Linked DNA regions of Homo sapiens. The protein of the gene in region 3 purifies or fractionates together with the protein of the main gene of each other region. This does not show direct contact. Each region holds a gene or a part of one and is shown on either strand. Other genes may lie near its edges. The genes, in order: ZNF74, ITPRID2, DNAJC10, FBLN5, MTMR3, LRP1B and PPARGC1B.

Evidence for each region.
Region 1: the proteins of DNAJC10 (region 3) and ZNF74 purify together in Homo sapiens (co-immunoprecipitation; one large-scale study listed by IntAct). This does not show direct contact.
Region 2: the proteins of DNAJC10 (region 3) and ITPRID2 purify together in Homo sapiens (affinity purification with mass spectrometry; 2 studies listed by BioGRID and IntAct, with this or other methods). This does not show direct contact.
Region 4: the proteins of DNAJC10 (region 3) and FBLN5 purify together in Homo sapiens (affinity purification with mass spectrometry; 2 studies listed by BioGRID and IntAct, with this or other methods). This does not show direct contact.
Region 5: the proteins of DNAJC10 (region 3) and MTMR3 purify together in Homo sapiens (affinity purification with mass spectrometry; 2 studies listed by BioGRID and IntAct, with this or other methods). This does not show direct contact.
Region 6: the proteins of DNAJC10 (region 3) and LRP1B purify together in Homo sapiens (affinity purification with mass spectrometry; 2 studies listed by BioGRID and IntAct, with this or other methods). This does not show direct contact.
Region 7: the proteins of DNAJC10 (region 3) and PPARGC1B purify together in Homo sapiens (affinity purification with mass spectrometry; 2 studies listed by BioGRID and IntAct, with this or other methods). This does not show direct contact.

Annotation. Positions count from the first base shown.
Region 1 is NC_000022.11:20,406,553-20,408,955, reverse strand, and holds the end of ZNF74 (zinc finger protein 74), read right to left. Parts: coding exon 1,988-2,403; 3' UTR 501-1,987; downstream 1-500. UniProt on the Homo sapiens protein: May play a role in RNA metabolism.
Region 2 is NC_000002.12:181,897,548-181,902,395, reverse strand, and holds part of ITPRID2 (protein ITPRID2), read right to left. Parts: intron 3,517-4,848; coding exon 3,477-3,516; intron 3,383-3,476; coding exon 3,284-3,382; intron 1,701-3,283; coding exon 1,492-1,700; intron 631-1,491; coding exon 1-630.
Region 3 is NC_000002.12:182,719,257-182,724,104, forward strand, and holds part of DNAJC10 (dnaJ homolog subfamily C member 10 isoform 1 precursor), read left to right. Parts: intron 1-750; coding exon 751-913; intron 914-2,768; coding exon 2,769-2,819; intron 2,820-4,848. UniProt on the Homo sapiens protein: Endoplasmic reticulum disulfide reductase involved both in the correct folding of proteins and degradation of misfolded proteins.
Region 4 is NC_000014.9:91,937,695-91,941,194, reverse strand, and holds part of FBLN5 (fibulin-5 isoform 1 precursor), read left to right. Parts: intron 1-578; coding exon 579-630; intron 631-1,244; exon of another isoform or gene 1,245-1,345; intron 1,346-2,742; coding exon of another isoform or gene 2,743-2,865; intron 2,866-3,500. UniProt on the Homo sapiens protein: Essential for elastic fiber formation, is involved in the assembly of continuous elastin (ELN) polymer and promotes the interaction of microfibrils and ELN. Stabilizes and organizes elastic fibers in the skin, lung and vasculature.
Region 5 is NC_000022.11:30,021,326-30,026,173, reverse strand, and holds part of MTMR3 (phosphatidylinositol-3,5-bisphosphate 3-phosphatase MTMR3), read right to left. Parts: intron 4,146-4,848; coding exon 4,035-4,145; intron 3,566-4,034; coding exon 3,477-3,565; intron 2,718-3,476; coding exon of another isoform or gene 2,691-2,717; intron 545-2,690; coding exon 373-544; 3' UTR 1-372. UniProt on the Homo sapiens protein: Lipid phosphatase that specifically dephosphorylates the D-3 position of phosphatidylinositol 3-phosphate and phosphatidylinositol 3,5-bisphosphate, generating phosphatidylinositol and phosphatidylinositol 5-phosphate.
Region 6 is NC_000002.12:140,230,382-140,235,229, forward strand, and holds the end of LRP1B (low-density lipoprotein receptor-related protein 1B precursor), read right to left. Parts: intron 4,504-4,848; coding exon 4,405-4,503; intron 2,946-4,404; coding exon 2,805-2,945; 3' UTR 1,042-2,804; downstream 1-1,041. UniProt on the Homo sapiens protein: Potential cell surface proteins that bind and internalize ligands in the process of receptor-mediated endocytosis.
Region 7 is NC_000005.10:149,851,679-149,856,239, reverse strand, and holds the end of PPARGC1B (peroxisome proliferator-activated receptor gamma coactivator 1-beta), read right to left. Parts: 3' UTR 1,218-4,561; downstream 1-1,217. UniProt on the Homo sapiens protein: Plays a role of stimulator of transcription factors and nuclear receptors activities. Activates transcriptional activity of estrogen receptor alpha, nuclear respiratory factor 1 (NRF1) and glucocorticoid receptor in the presence of glucocorticoids.

The DNA.
Region 1 (2,403 bases), on a different chromosome or scaffold from region 3:
AACAAAAGAGTATCTAAGAGACCAGAGAGAACACTGTGCCTCTGTTTAGAAGTATAACAAGGACATGGATGAAGCTGGAAACCATCATTCTCAGCACACTATCGCAAGGACAAAAAACCAAATATCGCATGTTCTCACTCATAGGTTGGAATTGAACAATGGACACAGGAAGGGGAACATCACACACCAGGGCCTGTTGTGGGGTGGGGGGAGGCGGGAGGGATAGCATTTGGAGATATACCTAATGTTAAATGACGAGTTACTGGGTGCAGCACACCAACATGACACATGTATACATATGTAACTAACCTGCACGTTGTGCATACGTACCCTAGAACTTACAGTATAATTTAAAAAAAAAAGAAGTATAACGAGGACAGTTTAGATGCTTGAAAAAAAAATCTGCTACAAAGCTAAAGAGGGAAAAAAGATAAAAACTATAGATACACTGTGTTGAAAATAATGCAAAGTTCTACATGAACAAAGCAGAGGGTAATGTATCAAAGTGCAAAAGGCAGTTTTATTAAGAATTATGGGGATTTTATTTTTCAGAAGTCCACATTTTCTGAAGTGTGGTTATTTTGCCTGCATAATTTAAAAAGCATACTGAAAGCATTTCATAAACGATAGCACTCCGTATAAAGTATGATCACCAAGAGGGCAGCTTATTCTTGCTTAGGACTAAGTAGAAATAACATTCATTCAAGATTAACTCTGTCTTCCTGTCTCTGAAGAGTGTTGGGACAGGGAGAGCCGCCTTTTCCAGGGTTTGCAAAACAGCTCCATGTGGGACCACCATGGAGCCCGTCTCCCTGGGCTTCAGCTTCCCCTCTCCAGTGGGTGCTGGGAGGGGCTTCTTCTGTGACCTGGGCTGGTGACTGGTGCTACATAGTGAGAAGCCCTGCAGGGCAGCCTCACCAGCCCAGGGTGGCCCTGCCCAGCCCTGGTCAGTGAAGAGGAGCTTCCAGACACACCCATCCTGATGTTGTGCCCATCTTCCCTGAATGCACTGGGCACCTGCCTGGTAGCTCCCAATTTCTCACTAGGGGCTAAATGGCAAGAGGTGATGTTGGCATGTTAGGATCTGGCTACAATGATGCTGGGCCGTGCTGTGACAGCTGTGGGAATGCCCCTGACTGCACTGTCACTAAACACACAGCTCTGCAGTAGAGCTATTTACATGAGTTAAGTCCAGGAAATTCACTTTTTCCAAATGCCCACCACCCAAGATTATTCTCCTCTCTAGCAATATAATAATGTTCACTGGAAAGTGATGCTAGTCATAATTCTTGTTTTATTATTATTCTGAAAATAATAGTTTATGGAGGAAACTCCTGATTAAAGCCGTGTCAGGAGCCCGTCCGAGGATACAACAGTTGATATACCTCCTTTTAATTTCACACAGGGTCTTGCTTTGTCACCCAGGCTGCAGTGCAGTGCTGTGAATCATGGCTCACTGCAGCCTTGACCTCCTAGGCTCAAATGATCCTCCCACCTCAGCCTCCTGAGTAGCTGGGACCACAGGGACATGCCGCCACATCTGGCTAATTTTTGCATTTTTTGTAGAGACGAGGTCTCACCATGTTGTCCAGGCTGGTCCTAGACTCCTGGGCTCAAGTGATCCCCTTGCCTTGGCCTCCCACAGTGTTAAGATTACAGGTGTGAGCCATGGCACCCAACGATATCCCTTCTTTTTATTGGCAAGAAAGATCTTTCCCCTTGTCAACAACTTCCAGGCCCATCAAGGAAAACAGGTGGCAAGACTACCTCAAATGACTCTCAACACTCCTCCTGGAGTGTGGCCCTTCTGGGGAGGTGACTGACTTTAACTAGAGGAGGCACCCTGGCATGCAGACCTGATGGGGGTGATAAGGCAAGGCTCCCACACCTGGAGGAAGGTGGTCTGGATCTAGGAGCCAGGGAGGACCAGGGTGCTTTCCTTGTTGAGTAGCTCAGAAAGCAGCTACTGACACCAAAGCACATCATGTTAGTTTCGAGGTTTGCTCCCCAGGGAGAAATTCCTGCCAGCTCTGGGGGGAACCACGCACAAGAGCTTTGCCACATCCAGCGCGTCGATGGGATCCACGTCCCTCAGTCCAGCATCCCCTGCACCCAGCAGGCTGCCAGGCACGTAGTATGTGCTGAGCAGGTGTTTGTTGAACTGGATGGCCAAGGGCTTCCCCTCGCTGTGCAGCCTCTGGTGCTCAGTGAGGTGCGAGCTCCAGTTGAACATCTCCCCACATTTCTCACACTTAAACGACTTCTCCCCGGAGTGGATTTTCTGATGTTTAATGAGACAGTGGTTCTGGCTGAAGGCTCTGCCGCACTCGCTGCACTTGTAGGGCTTCTCACCGGTGTGGATGCGCTGGTGCACGATGAGGGACGAGTGGCAGCTGAAGGCCT
Region 2 (4,848 bases), 820 kb from region 3:
AAGGCTCTTTTTCAGGTGTGGATATATGGACACTTTTCAGCTCACTGCTATTTTCCAGCTCACTGTGGCTGGATATGTTGAAATCACTATCTAATTTGGATTCTACAATACCAGATTCCTCACCCAGTTTACTCTCATGACTTTGAGTTTCTTTACTTTGTTCATTTTCAGTTCCTTGGTTAAAATTACTATTTGCTTCATCAGAAATTCTATCACTATCAGCATTCTCCGTAACAGCTGCTGAACTACCAGAGACTTCTTCTTTAACTGTAGCCAACATAGAAGATGACTCTTTCTTCTTCATAATTTTTTGAGACTTTTGATCGTTTTTATTGCCACTTTCTTCAATCACTGAAACATTTAGAATCTTTCCTTTTTCAGCTGATGGAGAAGGACTACTACTTTCTCCTTTCTCTGTTTTATCAACACATAAATTCAGTTTTGAGAGTGTTTTCATTAAACGATTTGCAGTGTTACTTCGAGTTAAAGGTGGAGGTGGGTCTGTCTCCTTGTTAGAGGTCACTGAGGACATACTTCCAATTCTCTGCAGGGGCGTCCCGGAGACTTGAGAATATAAAGAAGAAAACGCATTGGCCACAGTAGTAAGCACTTCAATTTGACGAAAACGGCCTACCAAAAGAAACAATATTAATGATATGTTTATATTTATATATATACATACACATATATTAAATGCATATTATTGTTTAGAATTCCAAAAACTACACTTAGATCACAAAGATTATAAAACCCTATTTTTTCCTCATCTAACACTTAAACCTTCTCTACATTCACTGGGTGGGAAGGAGCAAGATTTTTACTCTAAGCACTAGAATTTGTATTTTTAAAAAATCAGAAATAAGCACAAAGCATAATGGCAACATTGAATAAAACAGAAAGAACTAGCTATTGAATCTACAGTTGTGATTCTATTCTGAAGTCTTGAACTCCATTAAGACTCTTTCAAAATTCTCCTAAGAAAATGCATGTAAGCATATATTTTATACCTAATTTGCAGGGTGAGGGATTTATTGATCTCTTAAAACTGATCCATGAACAATGCAGGATTGGAATCCTATTTTTGGAATCTTTGGCTAACAGAAAGAAAACAAGCAAAGATATGAGTGAAACTGATCAAATTAGCCAGACTAGTTCCTGAAACAGACTGACTTCATTTAAGATTAACAAGGCTCCTCTCCTACTTCTTTTCTTCTTGAATAAAAGCAATCTGTAGACAACAATAAGGTTCTGCAAATAAGTTATGGTAGCACTTAAGTCAGGAATTGGGGAGGAGGGGAAAAATAGGCAAATTAACCACTATAAATGGAGTAATAAAATAGCTTAATTTTAACATGTAAAAATGGCTTTTGCGTTAATCAATCTCTTTACTTTCCAGTGCTATTCCTGAAAATTAAGGCTTTAAAATAAGACCATCTTGCTGTAGATGCTATAATTTAAGAAAATAATATGCCTAACACTTAAAAATCTTACTTGTTAAAGCATAATTTGGGTTTTCTACTTCCATCCGTTGCATCTGAGCACTCAAAAATACTTTAATATCTATCCCTTTGGCAAAGGATGATGAATTAAAAAATCTGGAAGGAATTTTAGAAGCAATATCTGGTTCATCACGTCCAAATCCAAGATTATAAAGAATTTCTTCAGGATCTTCCTCATAAAGTTCCAACAATTCTGAAACACTACAAAAAAAGGGGGCAAAAAAGGAAACATGAAAATATAAAATAAATTGATAGTCCACACCACATTATAAATGAATACATATTACTGATTTCCTGTGATAAAATCTTTTTTCTCAGCTTCTGCTCTGGAAACCATTATTTATTTTACCATGTTTACACATGTGTACTGGGGAATAAATAGCCCTTATAAAGGGTTCATTGTCTCAAGTTGCTAGAGTTGCAGAAAAGAGCTAACCCCAACGAACACAGTCAGAGATTCCCTACGTGATTCCTCACCTTATTTGTTTTGTCATTTTAAGAGATTCCCTGTAAAGCAGCTAAAACAAGTAGAAGACAGATGATGAAGAATAAGGAATGAACAGATTAAAGCAGAAATTAAAAGGAACTGAGGGACATTTTGTGAAATTTGAGCTTTTCTGTTATCCTTGTCCTAGGAGTGGCAATTGTCCTAGGAGGAACAATAAAGATAACAAGCTGATTTCAGAGAAGCGAGGGAGGAGCTTACTTTCAACTTCTCTCCAACCACTTCCACTCAGGAAGTAGGAGGAGTAAGGTACAGAGAGTGTGGGTTACACAAAGGTAACTACTCTAATCCTATTGGGAATTAAATATTTAGTATCCCTTCTCTCTCATACCAGTGATAATCCAAGCTTTCTAAGACTCACTGAAGAAAACAGGAAAGTTAGAGATGGAACTTCAACAGAGAGACATTTCAATTTGTTTCAGACAAAATGCTCAGATTCTAATATTATAATTTGGATAACAGTTTAAACTGGATTCCATAGGCACATGCACTGATGTATTTTAATATACTATATGTGCGGGCGGGAGAGGGGCAAGGGTATTTTTCTGTTTGGCTTTTTTGAGACAGCGTCTCACTCTGTCAGCCAAGTTGAAATGGAGTGGCACAATTATAGCTCACTGCAGCCTCAACCTCCTGGGTACCACTTCAGCCTTCCAAGTGGTTGTGACTACAGGTGGATCCCACCATACCCAGCTAATTTTTGCATTTTTTGTAAAGACAGGGTTTCGCCGTTTCCCCATATTGCTCAGGCTGGTCTTGAATTCCTAAGCTCAAGTAATCCACCCACTTTGACACTCCAAAGCACTGGGATTACCGGTGTCAGCCACTGGGCCTGGCTATACTATATATTTGAAAGATCTTTGGTTTAATGTGTTGAAAAAAAGTATGCTTAAATATCAAGCTGTAACTTAGAAAAATTTATTCTGATTTTTGTGTCAGAGTTAACTCAAGTCCTTAACAATGAATTTTGGTTCTCTACAACTACAAGTTACTCCGCTATGGAGTTCCTCTTTCAGGCTGTTGAGAGGGCTCAAAATACTCATTTATGGGTTCCAGCAGCAGTATAAGCCTATTTATTGCATTTTATTTAATCTCAAAGTAAAACAAAACAAAACAAAACAAAACAAAAAGCTCCTATCAGTTGTGCTGGTACAGGAAACGCTCTTTTTGTGTTCTTTCTGATTTCATATGATCAAGGTCAAATCCAAGATTGAAAAAATGATAAGAGTAGGTCATCTATAGCACAATGTAATTCCAACACAATTTCAGAATAAGTTACCTTGAAACTGTCCCACTACTTTTCCCAGATCCAGTGGAATTCATACTTCTCCCTTTCTGATGAAACTGTAATCTTCTCTCTTTGGCCAAGATATTATTGCTACGAACAAAATCAGATTATATAAAACTTTATAACTTTATTTTCATTAAAGGTCTTCATTTTTTAAAAGAAATAGAACAAAACAGCTACATACCAGTTTTCAATTTGAGCATCACTTTCATGGAGGTGGTTGGCTACAGGTAAAAACAATAAACGTAGAGCACAATTGTTAGTAGGACTATAACTACTATGATACAATTATCAAGAAATCTAATTACCTACAATATTAGAATTAAATGCCAAATATATTAAACACTTATCTTGGTCCATTAAATCTGCATTATTAAAAGTGATATACAGATAGATAAGAACAGGGCCAGGAGCTTTTGAAGGGTGTTTTTGTGTTGTGGCAACATGAAACTAACTACTCTCACTTGAGTGCTTAAAATAAAAAAACGTATAGGGAACCAGTTAAATTTCTTTAACAGGTTAGAAATAAGTAATGAGGAAGATATGTACCATATATGTGGTACTAATTATTAAATTTAAAAGCTATTAATGAATAATATCTTAAGAGGAAAACATGATTTAACATTAAGTGTGGCAATAGTATATGTCAGTTTCTAATGTGAATTTTTTTTAAGGTTATAACTGATTTTTCACACATATAACATGAAAATTTCTACTTATTTCAATATAAACTTTCTTTTAAAAATTGCCTTTCAACTTTATGATAGAACTTTAGCTTAAAGTTCTAAACAGGTAAGTGTTAATGTTTAAAGTTAAATTTATAGACAAATACAAAGAATAAAATTAATTATAAACACATCTATTTCAGCACACATGAATTGCTTTTCATTTCTGATCTACAAAGTTATGACAATTTTGTGTTTCTTTGTACATCCACCAGAAAGGTGCCTAACTCACAGCACTCAGTAATTATTTACTTAATGAATGGAAATAGCCTTGAAATAATTTTCAGTAAAACAACATAATAGATTTACTCTTTCATGAGACTCCTTTTTAGGTTCTGGTTTCCAATAAAATCATTCAATATTATCAAACTACCAAGGCAAATATCAAAAGTGCAAAGTGCATTTTAATAACGGATTGACAACATGTTCAATTGTACTGAGTGGGAATCAGTAAGTTTAAGCTCTTTATAGAGCTTGAAAATATATGAACAGAAATAATAAGAACTAATATATTTGCATATTCCAGAGTTTTAAATGTTAGAAGGTTCTAAATAAGTAATTTACTTTACAGATGCATTTGAAACAGGAAAAAATCAAGAATATTAAATTCAATGTATAAATTCACTATTCACCAACTTGTAAGCTTTAAAGACTTTTTAAAAATCCTTGTTTTTTTTAAAAAAGTACACATTAATAACTGAGCTATACAGCTATGAATAATCTATGCAATTTGATCAATGAGCTATAAAATAGCTTTTAAAACACCAGTAAAATAATTAAAAATTCTTATTTTTTGTACAAGAAAGCTTTATTATAAATCTACTGGAAAAC
Region 3 (4,848 bases):
TTTTTTTTTTTTTTTTTGAGATAGGGTCTCACTCTCTTGCCCAGACTGGAGTGCAGTGACGCCAGCGGCTTCCTGCAACTTCTGCATCACAGGCTTAAGCAATTCCCCTGCCTCACCCTCCTGAGTAGCTGGGATTACAGGCGTGCGTCACTACTGCCCAGCTAGTTTTTGTGTTTTTAGTAGAAACGGGGCTTCACCATGTTGGCCAGGCTGGTCTCGATCTCCTGACCTCAAATGATCCACCCTCCTCAGTCTCCCAAAGTACTGGGATCGATTTTGGGGTGTTTTCTGATACTGGCTTTTATGTAATTAGCTGATAGATTGGGGCACATCCTTTTTTAATTAAGTTGATTTTACCTCAAATAGAAAAATAACCTACAAATGTATTGATTTATAATTGTTATAGGAGTAAAAAATATTTATGAAATTAAGAGTTTCAACAGGCTTATTATTTTCAGCTGCATTTTTTAGGAAGAATAACTCATGGTCTGATAACGTCTGTCAACCTTTTGAAGAGTCAATTATTTCATTACTTTTCTTACTTTTTTTTTTTTTTTTTTGAAGATTATAGTTTCTTAAAAAATACTTCATTTCAACCCATGGTAACTCATGTCATGTTGTATTACCCCTCCTTATGTTGGTATATGGTCTCCCAGAAGTTACTAGATTAATTAAACCTACATATATGTTTTGAAGAAACTTGGATTGTGTATCTGAAATAATTGTATTATATCTAATATTTTTTAACAGAATAACCCAAATGCACATGGCGATTTTTTAAAAATAAATAGAGCATATGAAGTACTCAAAGATGAAGATCTACGGAAAAAGTATGACAAATATGGAGAAAAGGGACTTGAGGATAATCAAGGTGGCCAGTATGAAAGCTGGAACTATTATCGTTATGATTTTGGTAAGGTGATACGATATTACTTATGAAATGTGTTTTATCTGAGTAAAAGAAAAGTGAATTCTGTTTCACCACTTAGCTTATATATTTAAGATGCGTCACTTTGATTAGCTCCTTTTAATTTGCTGTGGGAGTGAAATTTAAAAGGAATGTCAGTTGGTATACAGAGATGATCTGTACAGATATGAAGTTGTATTGGTTAAATCTTGTTAAATACTTTTAAAATAAGGATTGCTATTTAATAAAAAATATGCATTCATGGACTGCATAATGACATTTCACTTAACAATGGATTGTATGTAGGACATTGGTCCCATGAAATTATAATACCATATTTTTACTGTACCTTTTCTATATTTAAATACAAAGATACTTAGCATTGTGTTACAGTTGCCTATGGTATTCAGCAGTAACATGCTGTACAGATTTGTAGACTAGGTGTGTAGTAAGCTATACTATCTAGGTTTGTGTAAGTACACTCTGTGATGTTTTTGCAACAACAAAATTCCCTAACAACACATTTCTCAGAATGTGTCCCATTAGTAAGTGATGTATGACTATATGTTTGCATTAGGGGTAGCTAAATATTTCTTTCAGTATTTTTTAGTATTGAATAATATTAATTTCTTTCAATATATTTTAGAGCATCATATTGTCCAAGAAAGGCGAAACTTCAAGTTTAGTAATGATCTCTTCAATAGAAATGCCGTCCTTCTCATATGGAACCCTTACTGATTTTTAAGGTGTTTTGGCCTTCGGTTGACATTAAGGTCAATACCTTGAAACATTATCAATAAAGGTTCCATATGAGAAGGACGAAAGGTGTTTTTTTTCTTAAACATGGAGGAAAAAATAAGGTGGAAGGAGGAAACAAAGTAAAGGAACTAAGGAAGAGAGATTGTAAACACACAGGTATCAAGGGAGGAAGGTGTGTTCAGAGACCCAGTGTTTCTCCTAGTCATTAATTAACCTCAAATGCAGGCTAAGAACTGAATATGCTTCTGTATTAGACTAAATGAAGTATTTTAAATTTATATCTGGAGGATTTGCTTTTAGTAAATATGATTTTTTTTCAAAATAGTATTTTCAAGTATATTCTCTACACCTTGATAGTCTATATCAAGAGTTAGCAGACTGCATTTCATAGGCCAAATCTGGCTTGCCATTTGCTTTTATAAATAAGTTTTATTGGAATGGAATTACTTTAATTTGTTTACATAATATATGTGACTTCTTTCACACTTCAAGAGCAGAGTTGAGAAGTTGTGATAGAAGCCATACATCCCACAAAGCCTAAAAAATGTATATTTACTAAATATTTGTGTCTGCCTCTGCAAATACTCTAAGCTTTTTAGCAGAAGATATTCTAACATGATACCATGTGTTAAAAACCATATAATCTGAAAATCAAATGAGGTCTGTAGTCTAGTTAACAGTGTACCACTCTCAATTTCCTGGTTTTCGATATTGTGCTATATAGCTACATAACATGTCACCATTAGAGGAAGGTGAGTAAAAAGTATACAAGAGTCTATATTTTTGCACCTTCCTGAATCTGTAATTATTTTTAAAACCATAATATAAATTTTATATGGAGGTAAAATTATGTGAATATTACGAACTACCGCATACACATCTATGAGAGTCCATATCAGAATTCTAATATCTTTAGATCACCCTAAATGTACTGATAGTATTATTTACTTTTTTTTCACTTAGGATGTTGCATATTCTCTAAGTTTGAGATATAATATAGTAGTTTGATTTTTTTGATGATTAAAACGAGTAATCTATTTTTATGTTGCAATTTATATGGTGAAGTTTTGATTTTATAATTTTTATATACTTTTAAAATTAGGTATTTATGATGATGATCCTGAAATCATAACATTGGAAAGAAGAGAATTTGGTAAGTTTGTGGGCTTAAGGTTTTATAAAACTAATACAAGTTCGATCTCATCTAAAACTCTAGGGGATATATATGTTTGAAATTTAGAAATCTTTTGGAGTTTCGAACAGTAATAATGTAATATACTGTATCTTAAATATTTCTAGCAGAATGTGGGGAAGTGTACCATAATAAAAACATTAATATTTATGTAGCAAAATGTGTAAGTATATATACTAAATAAAAGAAATTTAAAAATCAGTTCAGATCAGGTTTGGATGCCAAGTGAGCTTGCTGCAAACTTACAGCAAAACTTCTCAGAGCTTTTTGATTTTAGAGTTTTGGATAAAGGTATAGTTATTTTGGAAGTAGATTTAATTTGATTGGCAACTTTGTGTGAAAATGGCCATAAAAATACAGTTCTGCATTTTCCATTGCATTTTAGAAAATTGTATACCAGAATAGATTCTTATACTTTCATCCTTTGTACAGTAATAATAGGTTTATTTTTTCTATTTCAGAGCAATAAATTAAACTTCAAATCAAATTTCAATTTTATATTGCTCTATCACAATTGTATTTAATTTAGAAAACTAAAATACAGCCAGGCGCGGTGGCTCACACCTGTATAATCCCAGCACTTTGGGAGGCCAAGGCAGGCAGATCGCTTGAGATCAGGAGTTAGAAACCAGCCTGGCCAACATGGGGAAAACCCTCTCTACTAAAAATACAAAAATTAGGTGTGCCTGGTGGCACGCACCTGTAATCCCAGCTACTTGGGAGGCTGACGCACAAGAATCGCGTGAATCTGGGAGGCTGATATTGCAGTGAGCCATGATGGCACCACAAAAAAAAAGAAAACTAAAATAGCGTACCAGTCGCAAAAAATACATATAAATCTATATGTTTTTCATATATTATCGTTAAAAATTTATTACAGCTACTTGATTTTATACAGTTTGTTCCTTCTAAGCAAGGGTGGCTTTTTTTTTTTTTTTTTTTTGAGACGGAGTCTTGCTTTGTCACCCAGACCAGTGTGCAGTGGCACGATCTTGGCTCACTGCAACCTCTGCCCCCTGGGTTCAAGCGATTCTCCTGCCTCAGCCTTCTGAATAGCTGGGATTACAGGTGCCCGCTACCACACCCAGTTAATTTTTGTATTTGTATTTTTAGTAGAGACAGGATTTCACCATGTTGGCCAGGCTGATCTCGAACTCCTGACCTCAGGCGATCCACCCACGTTGGCCTCCCAAAGTGCCAGGATTACAGGCATGAGCCACCACATCTGGCCAAGGGTGGCATTTTAATCTTATTTTCTACATCATGCTGGTGAGCTTCACATACAAAATAGCTGTTCAATGTGTTACTTTGTTAAAAGCCTTCTAGGTGAACACTTGAACATGTTCTAAGTGAATAGAAAATACATCTTTCCTGTGTTCTGCAAATAAGACAATTTGATTCATTTGGATTGTTAATAGAATTAATGCTCATGTCACAAGCTGGTAGAATCATAACTCTCGTGTGAGTTATATAAACCTATAGCTGTTCCTGTGTGGTTTTTATTGTCTCTCATCTCCTAATATATCAGTAAGTGTTTTGTGTACCAATGGTTCAGAAAACATCGGAATTACAGATAGAGGAACTGAACAAAACTTGCAAGCTTACTAATCCATGAGTCTACCTAGAATGAGACTTCACTGATAGTTATATTGTATATGGGTTCACACTTTTTCAGATGTGTCACTATGCAGAAAAGCTTAAGAACTGTTAATAGTTCATATAGAACCCCAAATGGTAGTTCAAGATAAATTGCAGCCACAAAACTTCAGAGATAATTCATAAATAATTAACCTTGCTTGATGAGAGGAATGAGCAGGAGCATTGTTGTGATAGAGAAGGACCCTCTAGTGAAGCTTTCCCAGGCATTTTTCTGCTAAGCAGATGTTATCATTTCTGGCTCTCTAGAAAGTCAACAAGCAAATGCCTTCTAAGCTCTTCTATTATATGCAGCATAGGTTAAGTAGGTTTAATCAATTCTGACAGCTACTGT
Region 4 (3,500 bases), on a different chromosome or scaffold from region 3:
GGATTTCATGGGGGCAAATAACTCATATTCGACACTCTGAAGGCGAGGTAGCACCTAAAGAAAGAGTCATTGCCCTTAAAAGCAGTCTTATTCATTCCCAGAAAGGGGATGAACAGGGAGCATGCCACATTAGGCTCAGCAGATATGATTCCTCTTGCTCTTCACAACTACAGCATTAAAAACCCTGAAACCTGTCTGCTAAAAATGGGAGCTATGAAGCAATGGTACAGGGAGTTTTTTTTTAAATAAAGTTTTTCTAAAAACACAGAGATGGGGTCTTGAGGGCGGTCTCAAAATCCTGGGCTCAAGAAATCCTTCCTCCTCAGCCTCCCAAAGTGCTGGGATTACATGCATGAGCCACTGCGCCTGGCCTGGTGTGGGGAGTTTAGAAAGTAGTTCTAAGTATAAAATAATTACAAGGAAAAATTTTAGAAGAACAAATAGGGGTTATAATACAGGTATTGGTATTTTGGAGGCCTTTCTTTTTTGCTCCATTTCCCCAACTTTCTGTGTTGCAGCAATAAGACTTTTATGGTGTGAAATGACCTTGCCTGTTTCTCCTCTCTCCTTCCCTGCAGGCACAGTGCACGAATGGCTTTGACCTGGATCGCCAGTCAGGACAGTGTTTAGGTATGAGCCACTGTGGATCCTTCATTGGGGTGGAGGCATTCAGCCCAGTTGCAGTGCTATTTATTTCTTTCTCTGTTGTTCAATGATTAGCCATGCCCATGGGAGAATACAGTGACATGGAATGACTGAAGTCAGTGGTGCCCTTTTATTGATCACCTTCTTTGTGCCTGGCCTTGAGCTAAGCACTGAGAGGGGTGAAAGAATTGATCTCTGTTCTCTTGAAGGTTTCTATTGGATTGGTGTTTCCTAGGGCTGCCGTAACAAATTACCACCAACTTAGTGGCTTAAACAACACCAGTGTATGATTTTACAGTTCAGTAGGTCAGAAGTTTGACTTGAGTCTCCACCAGAATAGAATTAAGGTGTCAGTAGGGCTGTGTGCTCTTCTGGAGGCTCTAAGGGAGACTTTTATTCCCTTCTGGTTGTTGGCAGAATTGAGTTTCTTGTGGTTGTAGGACTGAGGTTCTGTTTCCTTGCTGACTGTCAGTGGAGGGCAATTCCTACCTTTTAGAAGCCTCCTGCTTTCCTTGGCTGGTGGCTCCTCCCTCCATCCTCAAAGCCAACACAGCGAGTCAAGCGTTTCTCACTTTGAATCTCTTCTTTTTCTGTTGTAGCATCTCTCTGACCAATCAGCCTCTTCTTCTTCTACTTTTAAGAACTCCTGTGAATATATCGGGCCCACCCAGAAAATCCAGGATAACCTCCCCATCTCAAGGTCAGCTGCTTAGTAAGCTTAATTCCAGCTGCTACCTTAATTCCCCTTTGCCGTGTAACCCAACCTATTCACAGGTTCTGAGGACTAGGAAGAGATTTTGGAGTGTTTGTGGGGGTCATTCTCTTAGCATGCCATCTTTTGCAATGGACTCTGCAAAAGAAGAGGAGAAAGTAATACCTTATGTCCAGGGTCAATAAAGCATCGATGGGGCCGGGTGCGGTGGCTCACGCCTGTAATCCCAGCACTTTGGGAGGCCGAGGCGAGTGCATCACCTGAGGGCAGGAGTGCGAGACCAGCCTGGCCAACATGGTGAAACCCTGTCTCTACTAAAAATACAAAAAAATTAGCCAGGAGTAGTGGCATGTGCTTGTAGCCCCAGCTACTCAGGAAGCTGAGGCAGGAGAATGGTTTGAACCTGGGAGGCAGAGGTTGCAATGAGCTGAGATCGCACCACTGTACTCCAGCCTGGGCAACAGAGAGAGACTCTGTCTCAAAAAAAAAAAAAAAAAAAATTAATGGAGGTCACATTTGAATTGGGTATTGAAAGATGAATAGGATCCTAAGAAATGCCATTCCAGGTAGAAGGAACAGCATTAACAAGGACCAGGTGTGGAAAGGACACTCAGAGCATGGAATAGTTTGTTGTTGACAGAGCATAGGGCATATGAACGGAAGAAGACAGCCCTACTTGCCCCCATCTTAGGGGAAGTATTTAGCTTTTAAATTATATTTAATTTAAGCAAAATCATTTGTCTTCTCTGAGCTAACGTCACCATGCTCCAGAGGGGAGATAGATGGTTTGAAAAATCGATGAACAGTGAGGAATAAAACCCTGTCCTGGGAAATCTGGGCTTACGTTTTGATTTTAAAATAAGGTGTTTTGATTTGAAGATTTGATGAGGAATCAAGAGTAGAGCAGTGGCCTTCTTTTCTGGCCCCCCATTTCAGCGATGGCTTCAGGCTTCAAGCTGGAGAACAGGCTGTTGCATTCTGCACCTTGCCATTGCTTTTACCTCTGGTAGGATTGGGTGTGAGTTTCTCAGATGAGATGCTGGGGGTGAGTTGTCGGGTGCAGGCATGTGGTCTCCAGTCTCTAGCCCCGCACAGAGCAGACTCCAAGGCTGCTGACATGGCTCGGTATACGGGATCATGTCTACTGCTCGCTGGAGCCACAGTTCAGGCCTCCCCTGTCTGTACCCTAGCAAGGCTGATTTTCTAGAGAGTCCACCTCTCCCCTTCCAGACATAACAAGCAGAGCCCAGCCTGGCTAGAAATTGTTGGCTGGCACAGAGCTGACTTGAAAGCAAAGCTCTGCTTTCTTAACAAGCAACTAGCTGTCAGTCAAGCCTTTTCTTTTTTTTCTTTTTTCTTTTTTTTGTTTTTGTTTTTGTTTTGAGATGGAGTTTCCCTCTCGTCGCCTAGGCTGGAGTGCAATGGCGCAATCTCAGCTCACTGCAACCTCTGCCTCCCGGGTTCAAGCGATTCTTCTGCCTCAGCCTCCCAAGTAGCTGGAATTACAGGCATGTGCCACCACACCCATCTAATTTTTGGTATTTAGTAGAGATGGGATTTCCCCATGTTGGGAGGCTGGTCTTGAACTCCTGACCTCAGGTGATCCACCTGCCTCGGCCTCCCAAAGTGCTGGGATTACAGGCATGAGCCACTGTGCCCAGCCTAAGCCTTGTCTTTTCCTGATGCAAGAGACTCTTTCTCCCCTGACCACTGTTACTTGAAGTAGAAGTGGAGACAATTGTTAGGCCCATCCCAGTATTTTCAGAGTATAGTATGTGCACACGAGGATCCTTGATGTATTAGATGGTACATCTGCAGATAAACACTCTTTATTTTAATAGTGTATATTTATTTTTACTGTTACCTTCTACTTATGCTAGTTTTCACTTGCTGTAGTCATGTAAGACTTTAAATATACATTTATTTGGGCTTCAAATATGGGCTTACTTAAAGAAAGAGTATGTGCAAATGATAGTACAGGTTTGTTTTAGTCCGTTCTCTGTTGCTTATACCTAAATACCTAAAACTGGGTAATTTATAAAGAAGAGGAATTTATTTCTTACAATTGTGGAAGCTGAGAAGTCCAAGGTTGAGGATCTCCATCTGGTGAGGGCCTTCTTGCTGGTGGGGGCTCTCTGCAGAG
Region 5 (4,848 bases), on a different chromosome or scaffold from region 3:
TGGCTCTGACCACCATCCTCCCACCCGGAAGAAACAAGCCATCCCTCAGTGTCACGTGACAGCAGGCAGCTCGGCAGTTACAGTGGGCCTGGCAACCCTTGGTCTTCCATCAAAAAAAAAAAAAATTAAGACAACCAAGGGAAAGTTTCCTTTTTTGAAGGCAGAGGAGGAGGATGGAAAAGGTAGGGAGGGAGTAGGGGGACAGGAAAGAAAAATCAATCTACAATCCAGTGGTGCATCCCAAATCTGTCACTCTGTACAGGTGGTTCCACGCTCCCATTCCAAAGTGCACGGGCCTCTCGGTCTGCCCAGGTTGAGTGGGCCTGTCATAGGAACAGCAGCTTGGCCACTGCCCACCCAGGTCACTGAGCTTCAGTTGGAAGTGGCAGCAATGGGCTTATCCAGTTCAAGGTCAATGCTGGAGCTTGTGGGATGTAGGCTGCTATAGCAAGACTTGCATACTCGACTGGGTTCAAAGAGCTGCTGGCTGGGAACTGGAACCTTCTGGTTACAACAACTGGAGCAGAATACGTTCCCACAATTCCTTGAGATGAGAAGAAACAGAACAATGTTAGTTTTGGCCAGCAGGTATGCGGAGGGAAACCAACTTCAAAAGACAAACTTTGCCGTGTGTAATTTGCATGTGCTGGAGCTCCTTGAGATCAAACCCTTTCATCTCTCTAGCCCAGGAACAAGCTGGGTAGGGAGGGTGTCCCTACCTAGCAGAGTCACATGTCATTTTCACTTTGGGGCCAAGGATTCTTGGCTGCCTCACCACTGACTCAAAAGAATGCTGCTCAGGTATACAAAAGAATGCTGCTCAAGAGAGATCTGTAAGAATACATGGTCCTAACAATGGGTTAGTCCTGATCCAGGAAAACCCAGTGGCCACACCCACCTAGGCAATGCCCTCTGTGTAGCTTGTGATCACAGAGGCCAGGCTCCTCAAACGAGAGAAACAACTACCCAGCCTCACTGGGGAGTAAGGAGCCTTGCCCAACGGCCACTTCTCCAGAGGATCAAAGGCAGCAACATGGCAGATAGACTGCTGCCATTTTGGACTGCTCTGCTGGCAGCATGCAAAGCCAGGGACAAGTAGCCTGTGATGCATGCTCAGAGGGTGAAAGAGGAGAGGTGGGAGGACAAGAACACAGGATGAACACACGTGCACACACACCCCCTTATTAGATAGGTGTCAGTCAATTATGGCTCACTCCCCGACCCATGCATCTCCAGGGAAAACCAGAGTTCTACCAGAAGGCCAGAATGCACTCAGGCCCCAGGCATCCCTCTCCTCCTCCCCTGAAAGCTGGGTTCTGAGGCATCTGTGCAGCACAGTTCTGCACCCCCAGATGGATGCCCATCAGAGCCAACAGGAAAGGGAATTGGCAAAGAATGAGTTTCTGCCCACCTTACAACTCTACTTTTGCTGGGCCCTGAGGTACAAATCAATCCTAATGAGCCTAAGAACAAGAAGCTCCAAGGAGCCTGACACAGCCCACCAAAGACTGGGGGAGGGCAGCTTCTTAGCCTTCTAACTTTTCATTTATGCTGTTCGGAATGCAAACCCACTGCTGGATTAAGGATCACTTAGGCACAGGAGGAGAGAAGACTAAGACCAGTTGGGAACAAAAGAATACCACAAAAGGAAAAGGTGGGACATGGGGCAATGGAAAGACAGAAAAGAAAAACACAAAATTCATCTTCTAGAATGCTGTACTTCGTAACTAGTTCTAAAAAGCGTGAGTCAGCAAAAACCTGTAGTTACACAGAAAAATTTCTGAACATCTACACTTCTTTAACATTCCTGCTGGAGTTCAGCTCAAAAGCCTGACATGAATTTGATGCTTTTCTTTCTTTTCTTTACTTTTTCGAGATGGGAGTTTTGCTCTTATTGCCCAGGCTGGAGTGCAATGGTGCGATCTTGGCTCACTGCAACCTCCGCCTCCCAGGTTCAAGAGATTCTCTTCTCCTGCCTCAGCCTCCCAAGGAGCTGGGATTACAGGCGTGCACCACCATGCCCAGCTAATTTTGTATTTTTAGTAAAGATGGAGTTACACAATGTTGGTCGGGCTGGTCTTGAACTCCTGACCTCAGGTGATCTGCCATCCTCGGCCTCCCAAAGTGCTAGGATTATAGGCGTAAGCCACCGCACCTGGCTGATGCTTTTCTATCTGACTTCTTTCAGAGGACCCTGAAAGACACTAAGTGGAATCTTTCCTTGAAGTCTTCCAAGCTAAAACAATTCTCTGGAAAGATCACCTCTGTTCAGTCCTGGTCTCTTAAAAAAAAAAAAAAAAGGGAAAAAAGAAGCAGTGATGCTGTTTGACCTGGAAATTACTAGCATTATTCTGGCATCTCAATGAATCACTGACCCAAAATAAATAGCTCTGAAAACCCAACTGGTTCCCCTACAAGACCAGAAGACAAGAAGCACTACTTCTCGTCACAAGCAAGACGGCCTGGCTGACCTCTGTGATCAGGAGGGGAGCACATGGCTGCAGCCTGACCCACCCTCGATGGCCTCTCCTCAGCTGCTTTGAATCCCCTCAAGCCCACCTATCTGCCTGTGCACCCAAGGCCCCAGGCTTCACCCTAGTAAGTGCAGAGAGGGGGAAATGATAAGAGTTAGTGTGGAGAAGTTATTGTAGATGTGCAGACATCACAGGCAGGTTGTTGCAAATGCTCACCACGTTTGATCAACACGGTCAGTGTCCCTGCAAGGAGGGGAGAAAGAGCTCAGAAGAGAAGCCAACCAAAGATATCTGGGCTTGGGGTGCAGGGTGGGGAGATACATGTCCTAGAAGCATCATTACTAGGCAAAGAGACTGTTCCATTTTCAATCCACCCACTCGTGTGGGTGAGCTATGGCATGATTCAGATAAACTTCCTCTTCTAAGAACACTGAACATCCACCAGACAGTCAACACCCTAGCTGGGGCAAAGGGTCCCTAGTAAACTCACTACCCTAACCCAGAAGGAAAAAGAAGTCAGGAACCTTAATGATTGGAAGACTGTCCTCAGCTGTCTCTACTACTTCCCAAGCTACAGCTGCTCACCAATGGCACAAGGGAAAACAAGTGTGGGGTCAGGGAGCAGGAAAGGAATAGGAAAATAGTTCCCTCCCCATCGCAGGAAAACTGGTTTTGCTCATAGTAGCCATGTTGAATGGGAAGAAATGTTATGCTGAGAATAAGAAATGGTGGTTTCAGTGGTGGCTGTTGTTTCACCAATCTGGGAAACAACAAAATGCTACCATTTGCACATTTCAGAATTTAACAGTGATTACTCTGAATTTGAACAAAGATGCCAAATGCAGTTTTGCAAACACCAATTTCAGAGGCACAGGAAGATGAGACCATGGCTCTGCCTCAGACAGAACACTGAGATACCCACAACCCTCTACTCTGCAGGCTCTGTGGGCCGACCCTCAACCTCCACACACAGCCCACCCTACCACAGCCCCTCAATGGTACCTGCAGTGGTGCTTCCTGCTGGCAAGCCAGAAGGCACTGTCGCACGCATAGCAGTGGGCGGCCAGGTGGTCAGGAAGCCAACGGGTCATCTGCAAAACAGATGGGACCAGGTTACTGACAGGAGATGGGCCATCCAGCTGGAGCCAGCAGAGCCATGCTGGGGGCAGCAAGAGTCACAAGGACCACATCAGCTCCAGTGGCACCAGCCCAGCAGATCTGATGTCAACAGTACAAGAAAGGCGTCCAAATCGTTTCCCTGGAGGGGACTCCAATCTCCCCTGAGATAAAGTAGCAGGCAGCAGCACCCTGGGTCACTGTGAGAGCTGGCAAGGCTCCAGTTCATAGAGGCAATGAAGAGGGAGGGCCAGCTTGCTGAGTCTCCCTGGCTCAGAAATCCTAGGCTTCATGTGGGTTCCCAGGAGCTAAGGTGCCAGAGGCTCAGGGCTAGCTGTGCTGGGAGGTGCTTCCTTGGCCAGGGGTATGGGGTGGGAATGGGGGTGGAGAAGAACCACAAAACAGTTAAATTGATGGCACTCAGAGCAGGGGCTGAGCCTGTACCTCTGTGTCCTGTTTATCCACCTGCTCCCAGCTGGCTTCAGAGAAAATCTCTGTGCTGCAGCGAGACAAACAGTTCTGATCCAGATTGCTTTCCGAGTCGGGGATTGAAGTCTGTTGGCAAACAAACACAGCTGAACAGAATGAACCTGGTCTCCTCCCAAAAGAAGAAAAGGCCTGGTGAAGAAGGGAGAACTGAGGACTCTGGGTGGGGCCGAGTGCTAGGACTGCCGAATCTGCAGATGCATCAGCCATCAAGAACTGGGGTGAAGAAGTGCAGTGTGGGCCTGGGCTCAGCTGGGAGAGGGATACACAGGTTGTGTGCAGTGACTCTGGAGTAGAAAAACAGGCCCTCAGGGTTCCAGAAAGTGAGTGAGAGGGAAGTGACCAAAATGGAATGAGAATTCTGTATGTCAGCTGCTCCAGTGGGCCTGTCAATCCAACCCTGCCTGCCACTAAGTTAAAGCTGAGTGCTTTCGGGATGCCCTCCTTTTCTTAGAAGGACTCTCTGGGAACATGAGAAACTATCATTAGCATGAAGGAAAAGCCAAGTCACTCTGAACTGAAAGTCACTGGATGTGCCCGCCTTTAATGTACGCTGACCACTTGAGAGCCAGGCTCACACTTGTACTTGAGCTGCCTGAGTCAAGTCCACCCAGAGAGGAAAGCACCTCCTTGAGAACCTCCCCCTCTGGAACCCCCATTTCCAGCCACAAACCCCCATCAGAGCTAACTCCTCAACAGTGCTAGAAACCAGTCCCTTCTCTCCATTTCTACTGGCAGCATCTGCCACAGGATGGGTATAAATATTTGTTTA
Region 6 (4,848 bases), about 42 Mb from region 3:
ATTACTTGATAAAATGCCAAAAAGTTGAAACTCATTGCTCTAGATAAGAAGGCATTTGGGTAGAGAAGCAAGTTCATCAAGAAACATTAATATTTATAAAATATCTCCCATCAAAGCTTGAAGCAATAGTTTAGAAAGCATTTTTTGATGGCATTTATAAAGAATTGTGACTTTGAAAGAGAATTATAAACTTGAATTTCTAGCATTTATAAAAATTTTTGCAATAGAAAATTGGAATAGAACACAATAGAGCTATGGAAACAGATTAAATTAACTTTAAGTAGTTGAAAATATATATTTATCATCTAAAGTAGCTGCAGGGCCCCAGGGTTAAAAAAAACACATTCTAAGCTTTGTTGACTATTGTTTTCACTAGGGCCCTAGTGAGAGTAGGTCATCAATGTCAGGTCCCAACTGGCAGTAGGTTGCATATCATATATTATTTGCTAGATATTTATACTAATGTTAACTGTATTAATATCACACCACTCTGTGGGTTCTTTGAAATATTTTCAGTTGCATTTACACAGCTCTGACATCAGAAGGCCCCTTCAAATAATATAACTCAATGTTAAGTAAATCAGACGCACCTATATTTTCCATCTCTAGTCTGATGCTAAAAGTAGGTATAGCAAATAACCATTCTAACAAAATAATGTGGAAATAGCGTCTAATGGAAATCTGATTTTCCATAAAGTACAGTTTTGGGGAATAGAAAGGGACAGGAAGAGCTTTGGCTTGTTTAGCATGGTTGTCATGCTACTGTGTATAGAACCTTTCTTTCTATTGCAATATGGAGACTCTGACAGGCACAGGAAGGCAGGGAAAAGGATAAAGTAAGGGGAGTGTTTCTACTCCATGAAGACAGAAAATGCCTTCTCTACTGTGCATTGAAAGATGATACAATGAAATCAGTTTTCCCCTGGAGTGTATTATGTTCTAAGGATATAAAAATGCCGTGTTTACTAAAACAGTTCTCTCAGAATATTTAAGCTACATAAAGGAATTTTCTTATTTTTAAAAACTACCCAACACAAGCTCTTAAATATGTAGAATTTCATTTAAATAAGTCAGTCAACAATTTTTTATAAAGTATTTAACACTTCATTGTAGAAACATAGGCAAAATGACTATATTATAACCAAAATGAAAAATACTGTTCAATTTAAAAAATGTACTTAAACAAGAACCTGAAAAAGTTTATGATATGCATAACATTGTTCAAGCAAAATTGCACTAGTATTACATAAATCAATAGTTTATAAAGGCCTCAATATGGCAAAGTTTAGAAATAGGTAGTATGCATGCACATAGTACAACAAAAAGTCTTCTTATAAAACAGCAGTTTTTTTAATGCTTGTACAAAGGGATAAAGAGCAACCACATATTTAACATATTTCATCTGTTAGGTTAATACATTATGACAGCTAAAAGTCAGTCATGTCTATCAGAGGAACAAAAAGCCCTCCAAAACTTGTGAATAAATCTTTTGTGCCTTTAAAGATATTTGTATAAAAATGCTATCCTTTTATTTTTATATACAACTTAAATAAATCGCACTCGTTTCAACTCAAATTTGAAGATAAACAAACCAAACGTGAATGGGGTCCATGCGTTCTGTAAAACCCAGAGAAACCTGAATACCAGAGCAACTGGCACAGCATTTCGACTCTCCACTTTTGATTATGGGAAGATCATTGTTCTTCTACAACTTGGAAGGCCCTTGAATATATTTTGGATAGGGCAAATAATGGGTTGCTCATATTAAATCTTGAAAATATTTGCCAATCACTCTGTATACTAAAATGTCTGCTTTGCCCTTTGTTTTTTGACCTAGCAAAGAGGATGCGTTCACGTAATTGAAATTCTGTCACCAATTTGTGTGCTTATATATTATTCTTTAGTGTTCAGTGTAGTGTAAGGGGTTGGGTTAATCTTCCACAAAATGGATGTGACTGGGAAGAAATACCTAAGATGCAAGTACCCAATGCCCTGTTGTGCTCTAGGCTGGCTATTTATCTCGAGACTGAGGGAGAATAAAAGGTCTTATTCCATAGCAAGTGCAGTCGGCCAACTTTCGGTTATATTTTTGCTATGTTCTACCACCTAAATATAACTATTGCTTACAAGGTGTATACATTTAGTACATCACATAGAGTCCACTAAGTTTTGGAAAATGTAGTCATCTGTGTTCATGCAAATTATTAATTTTACATATTTTTAATTTTTTTCCTCAAAATTCTCATCTATTGGTTGGCAATCTAAGGCTAATTTCAAAGCAGGTGATGCTGAACTTGTGAGAGCTATATATTTTCAGCAGAGTCTGAATCGATCTTTATGGGCACAAAGAAGAGAGTTGACCATTCAATCATTTTTCCATCAATTTAAACAGAAAAATAATATGACACTGTATTACAGCCTTCAAACCGTATAATGGAAAAGTGCAGAGATTCTCCTCGTTGATTAAGTACAACCAAAAAAGTTCATATAAAATAGATTGCTCATATTCACACTACAAAGGAATACGTTGTTTTTAATTTTAACAAATTCAAAGGTGTGTCATATCAGCAGCATTGTTGTAAATTGTACTGTAGTGCAGTTCTTTTTCATAAAAATACCATACAAATGGTCAATCAATAGTCATCAGCAAAAAATAAAACCCAAAAAACTCAGAAAACAATTAACCAGGAAAAAGATAAAGAAAGAGGTAATGCTGATGCCAAAACAAGTATAATACTGTTGGAACATACAAAAGTAATCCTTATATTTTATACATTTATACAGCATATAAAAGATATCACTGATTATGCCACTGTCTCTCTTATACCAATTTCTATTTTCTTTGGAAGCAGTTCTTTCCTTTCATCAACACTTCCTAAGGAGTTTCGACAGTTTTGCCCATCCATATATAATTTTGCATATACCGGATTGGAGTAATTTGTTGGCTGAAGGAGAAAAAAAATAAATATAATTTTATTACTGGTCTTGGCCACATTAATTATTTACTTCCTAGAATGTCCATCTCCTAATCGTAACAATATTTATATGCAATACATTTAATTTATTAAATAGTAATGATTTAAAGGTTATTTACATGTTACATTTACAGACTTTACTCAACTCAAGCATGGTATTAAATGAAACATAATTTTACATTTTGCAAGTAACTTGTGAACCTAAGAGGAGCTTTGCCATATACAAAAAGCCAGAAAAAAATCTTTGTAAAAGCTATGTTCACTGAGACTTTATTATAAAAGCATAAAATGTGAAACTAAATTGTCATGTTTTCAGTTTTTGTGTTGTCCCCCTTATTGCTATTACAAGCCTATCCGTGGCAAGTAAGATGTGTTTTCAGAAAAACATTTGTTTGGTGCTTATAATTTTTCAACATGAACTTAAAAACAAGTAAACAAAAATGTAAAGAAATGCATTAGTGTATCAGATTTTTAAAGCAATATTTTTGCCTCAAACAACCTGTGTGTACTTATTAGAAATATTTTTGGACTTTTTCAAAGAATTGTGATGTACACAGTCATCTTAAGTTTCACAAACATAGCATTTTGAAGTAGAATTAGAGGCATGCAGCAGCTGACCTCTTTGAGTTGGAAAACATATACATACAATGTTCACTATTTAACAAATTGCAGTTTATCCCAAGAAAATTTTGCCTAGTGTTTGTTTTCCTTATTTTTTGTTTCGTCTTTCCAAAAACAGTACATTAAATCTTAGTTACAACAAGGAAACATTATAATCTTTGAGCCATGCAATTGAGACAAACATGATAGAAAATGAGGATGAAAACAGTTGATGGGAAAGACGATAAGGGAGAGAATTCTCATCCCTAGGAATCTTGATAATGCATATTTTTATTCCTCTTCTGCTTAAAATGAACTATGTAACTTTAGACAGAACAGCTTTCTCTAAACACCAGTTACTTAATTGAAACATGTTTTTGAGAGTGGTTTTGTTAGACCGTCTGTAATTTCTCAATATGATGACACATTTTAAAGTATAGTCTATTTAACTGCACGTCAAATTTGTATATATTAAATAAACCACTATGAGAGGAAATGAATAAAATCAAAAGTTTATTCAGTTTTAATTTCTGGCTAGAGCTTCTTTGCTAAGAATAACAAATACTCATGTTCACTGTAAAGGGACAATAACATTTCCAAATCCAGTAGAAGAGATATTTCTACTTAATGGCTTGCCTAAAATAATGTTTTAGATGTAATCTTGCATAGACAGGACACATAACATAAGCCCCCAATTTAAATGCTATTTTGAAATCTCTTGTTAATTAAAAACTTAATTAAAAACAAGCCTCTAAGTCTAGTAATTAGTCTTTGATTGTGAGGGTTCTGTGATGAAACGGACATGAAATAACGAATATTCTTCTCTCACCCCAGCAGTTAGTGGTCCTTTCAAATCAGAGTTTAGGTAGATGGGCGGCGCTGTGTGTGGAAGCTTGAAAGCACTGGGTCCTCCCCCTATGTACCTGGCCTGTATATAAACAGAAAATTTTAGTTTCTGATCTAATATTATAGAATCACTTTTCATCGATACATATCATGTTAATTCATAAAAATAACATAAAAATACCCTTTAGCCTTACACCATTTACAGTGTGTTCATGTTAGCTTTAACAACTTAAAACAACTTAAAATATCCAATATTAATATTATTAAAGATCCAATATTAATATTGGATCTTTGCTTCATAGGTAGACATTTCTCTCACAAAAGTCTTATTCAGAAAATATAAAGAATAGTCCAAGTAAGAATTGGCATGAATTTGAAGATAAAACTAGTACATATTTATCTCTTTTAAACTCTTCAAACTGTTCTG
Region 7 (4,561 bases), on a different chromosome or scaffold from region 3:
CTGAACAAGGAGAATATATGTATGAGTTTGTATGAGTTTATGTAATAAATAGCAACCTGAAAATAGTTTGCACATAACATAAAATGTAATCATTCATTGCACCTGTTCTTATTTTATTTATTTATTTTGAGATGGAGTCTTGCTCTGTTGCCCAGGCTCTGTTGCCACGACCTTGGCTCACTGCAACCTCCGCCTCCCGGGTTCAAGCGATTCTCCTGCCTCAGCCTCCCGAGTAGCTGGGATTACAGGCGCCCCTCACCACGCCGGGCTAATTTTTGTATTGTTAGTAGAGATGGGGTTTCACCACGTTGGCCAGGCTAGTCTCGAACTCCTAACCTCAGGTGATCCGCCCGCCTCAGCCTCCCAAAGTGCTGGGATTACAGATGCGAGCCACCGCGCCCAGCCTGTTCTTGTTTATATATAATTCTCTTTGCCAGTGTTTCAACCCTTTGGGGCTTATGGGTGTCTGGCATTTAAAAATAAAGTTAAAGCACAAAAAACAGCTTTAGGGCAAAATACAGGCTAACCCCTTTGAGACGTGAGGAAATAACACACAGGCACGCAACTGAGAGTCTTGGAAGATGCCACTTCCTCACCCTACTTGCTGGAAGTACACAAAGGAAAATGTTCTGAGCTCATTCAATTACCGCACACAATGCAGGCCTGCTCTCTATGAGATCCTCTGACCAGAAACCATTTTGTAATTACAAATTGATGAGTGTTTTGCCTGGAACCACAATGCCAAAATACCTCCTACAGTGCATTTATTCAATGTGCTTATGTGAAAGTTGATATACCAAAACAAGGAAGTCTTTGTTCAGAAAGTGGTATAGCTTTATAAAAGTCAGGGCAAAAAGTCGTTCATGGAACAGCTGTTATGTGAGATGAGTCTGAATGGTTATTTTATTTATTTATTATATTTTATTTACTTTACTTTTTCAGAGATGGGGGTCTCACTATGTTGCCCAGGCTGGCCTTGAACTCCTGGGCTCAAGTGATCCCCCACCTCAGCCCCTGTGCCTGGCACGAATGGATATTATGAACTGTGAAAAGTGCTCTGAAGGAGGGAGAAGTGTGGTGAGGTGAGGAGCAGACATCATCCGGGGTCTTATCTGAGAAGGTGACGCTGAAAACTGAAATCTCTTCCCCATTTAGTGGTCAGAGTGTCCCTCAATGAGCTCCCAGGACCAACAAGGAAAAACACACATGGGCAAAGCTGTGGGTGGTATTTTGTTTTTAATCTCCATAGTGTATTTGTTAAGTTTATTTATAAGCAGATCACTTCACTATTTACAGTACATGAGCATAGAGATTCTACAGTTTCTGTGATGTAAACAATAACCCCACAGTGGGAGTTTGAGAAAAGAAGCCAGTTCTGAAGTATTTACAGACATTAAAATAGAACTTTATACTCACAGAATAATAATACATAGAGCAATTTGGTTAAATTATCTAGGAAACTATAGAATCTGACAATGTACAAATACAAGAAAACATTTTCTCATTTAGAAGGTAAGACAGAGAAATCACACCAGAAATAAAATAGGGACGATGACAACCACAATATGTAAAAGCAAAGAAGGTTTCCTCCTTGCCTCTTACGGATAAAGTATTTATATAAATAAGGACACAACCCAACAAAATGGAAAAAATATATAAAAATCCTCTACCAATTAAAAAAAATAGCAAAACTAAAAACTTGATTCTCAATCATTAGCAGTGTCCTTTAAAAAATTAAAATTTAGCTTTCTATTATAAATAACAAAGCAGATGTGTCCCTCTGTGTAGGTGAAATTCTTGCACCTTTCTCAATAAATGCATCAATGTAATTCCACACACACACACACACACAAACACACACACACAGGCACAGACGTGTGTATGTGTGCACAGATACACACACACACACCCCCACCACAAACACAGCCTTACACTCACGCACTCAGGCCGTAGTTACCTTGTTAAGCTTCCTAATAAATAATGCCCCCTACAGTAGTACCCCCGGGGATGACAAAACCTCACAGGTTTAGCCATTCCTTGGTTTGACCCTGTCGCAGAGTCAGGGAAAGCCCTGGCTCCTATTGCTCAGAATTCTCTAGGCTGTGTGGTCACACCAAGAGAAAATAATTTGAGTCCAAGATTTGGAAATGCTGGAAAGGACCATAGGGACCACCTTGCCCAGTTGATTAAGGCTGGCTACAGACACCTTCTTTAGAAACCTGGGGTTGGGGAGAGGGCTCGTGTTGGTTTCAACATTAGCAGCTGCCTCTGGAAGAAGCAGATGCTCCAAGCCAATGCTAACAACATGGCACAAGGAGGCGAGGGGGTGGGTGTGAATTCCAGAGCAGACTGCACTAAGCTGGACTTCTGGATGGTCATCTTCCCCAGAAACCATTTGGAAATCCAAGCAGTCTATTCCCCTGCTGCACATACCACCTTGTCCACGCTCCCCTTGAGATTTCCCACCTGTTTCCATTGGAATCAGAACATCCCTCAAGAAACAAAGTTGGGAATAGTTTATGACTTTTTATTCCTAACACAAAAACATTTGACAAGATTTTAAAAATACAAAATACAGAAACAAAAAATTGAACAAAAAAAACTATTTGGCTATTCGGGGATCATATCAAAGATCATGGCCAGGCCCCCCACAAAATCCTTACACCCAACTTCTTATCTTGCCTTGAGGGCAGAATTCGGACCACCCAGCAAAGGTTTACTTAACAAGGTCAGCAGCTGGGCTGCCAGTATTGCAGTTACAGTAAACCCTTCCCGGGCACCTGGACCTCTCCTGGTCCACTCCTGTCTCTTCTGCCCACAGGACAGCTAGTGCATTTCTCAGTTCTGCGTGAGAGTCTACTAAGTGGCTGCTTCTGGAGTCTTCTGACCCTAGTGTTGCACTGATCTCTGAACACAAAGGCAGTTCGTTCAGGCCATTATATTTCATTCCCAAAGTTCACGATGGACAGCAGGGTGGCCGAAAGGATTTATTTGCCTTCCATCTGGGTAGCTGGTGGAGACAACCTTTGGCCACTAGATGGCGACCGCATGTTGATAAGGCAAAGTGCTGAGGTGGAAACTGACCAATTCCCTTCACAAGTAACCAATGAGCAAGGGTGGTCAAGTGAAAAAGGAAGCTTTTGTAAGCCGCCTTGGAGACTCCTTTGACCAAAAATACAGCCCAGGGGGGTTCTAGTTATATAAACCCCTCTTTGAGGAGTTGTTGCACAGCCCAGGGACCGACCACCTATAAAACCTATTTTCCAAGCCCCAAATTTGGGCAGTTGGATTTTTGTACTCCTTCCGGATGTGCAAAGCATACTGATGAAACAGAGTATCTGAAAAGCTGTCCCCAGGAATCACGAAGGCTCAGTCACTGCTGCTATACCATTAAAGAAACAAAAAACAAAAGCTGCCCTAAACATATGCAGCGCGATCAATGCCTCCTGTTGCCCCATATGTTTTACAATCATTTGAAAGAAATGTGTGAAAAGCTCCTAAGCTGTTTTTCTTTAAAAAAAAAAAAAAAAAGTGTATTGCTAGTATTGTCTGAGAACAAGAGAGAAACAGCCAAATGGTCACAACATTCGGATTAACAGCTATCCAGTGGGGACAAAGACAAGGTTAATGTGAGATTTGACATCGTTACCTAGCCAAGTTGGGGGTTTAATTCCTTACTGTCCCCACTAGAAACTATGGCTTAGATCTGTCCCGGGGAGCTGGTCTTCTTGGATAAGGCAACTCAGCCAGGACACAGTGGGATTGAACCTACTGCTGGTTGGTTCTTGCAGAGAACCCTCACCCTGAACAGGAGCTGGGTCAAGTCAGAGAATGGAATCAGTTTCAAGGAGGAGTGATGGATTCCCAATGCTCCTGGTTGGGGATCTGAGCCTCTCAGAGGTGAAAGGGACTTTAATGCTCATATTCAACATTCTCATTTGGTAGATGAGGAAACAGGGGCCCAAGGTCACATAGCAAGTAAGAAACATTAGGGTTTCTGATTCTGAGATGGCTTACAGTTAAGTGACTTACTCTACAAACTCATTTCACTCAGCTGGGCTGTTTTCATCTTTCTGTAAAGGTAGGTACCAAGATCTAAACCCATGGCTCCCTGTTTCAAGGGCTTCCAACAAAAGGCCAGCAAAGGGTTGGCCCCAGCACTGGCTCTCCTGCTGCTGACATCTCCAAAGGCATCTCTGCTCTCTCCTACCTGACAGCAGCCCCATTCCCAAACTCCCTGTCCCAGTCTCTAGAAGATCACTTCACACAGCCAAAGGAGACTCGTATTTTCCAGTGTAGAAACACGGACCCAGGCTGAAGTGTTGGGGTTTTCTCAAAGTGCTTTTATTGTTTAATGCAAAGTCAGCCTTTGCCTACTTCCTGGGTGTCTTGTAGCCGGCTCAGGGCCTCCCCCATCCCATGGTGGTTCTGGGCCAAGGACACATCCATGCATGTGGGTTTCCAACTCTGCAGCTCCCCTCCATTTACCCGGTACCTCCAAACTTGACGAGCAGACCTGGAGCCCATCTGTGTGTAAAAACCCCTCAGGGACTAGGGGACT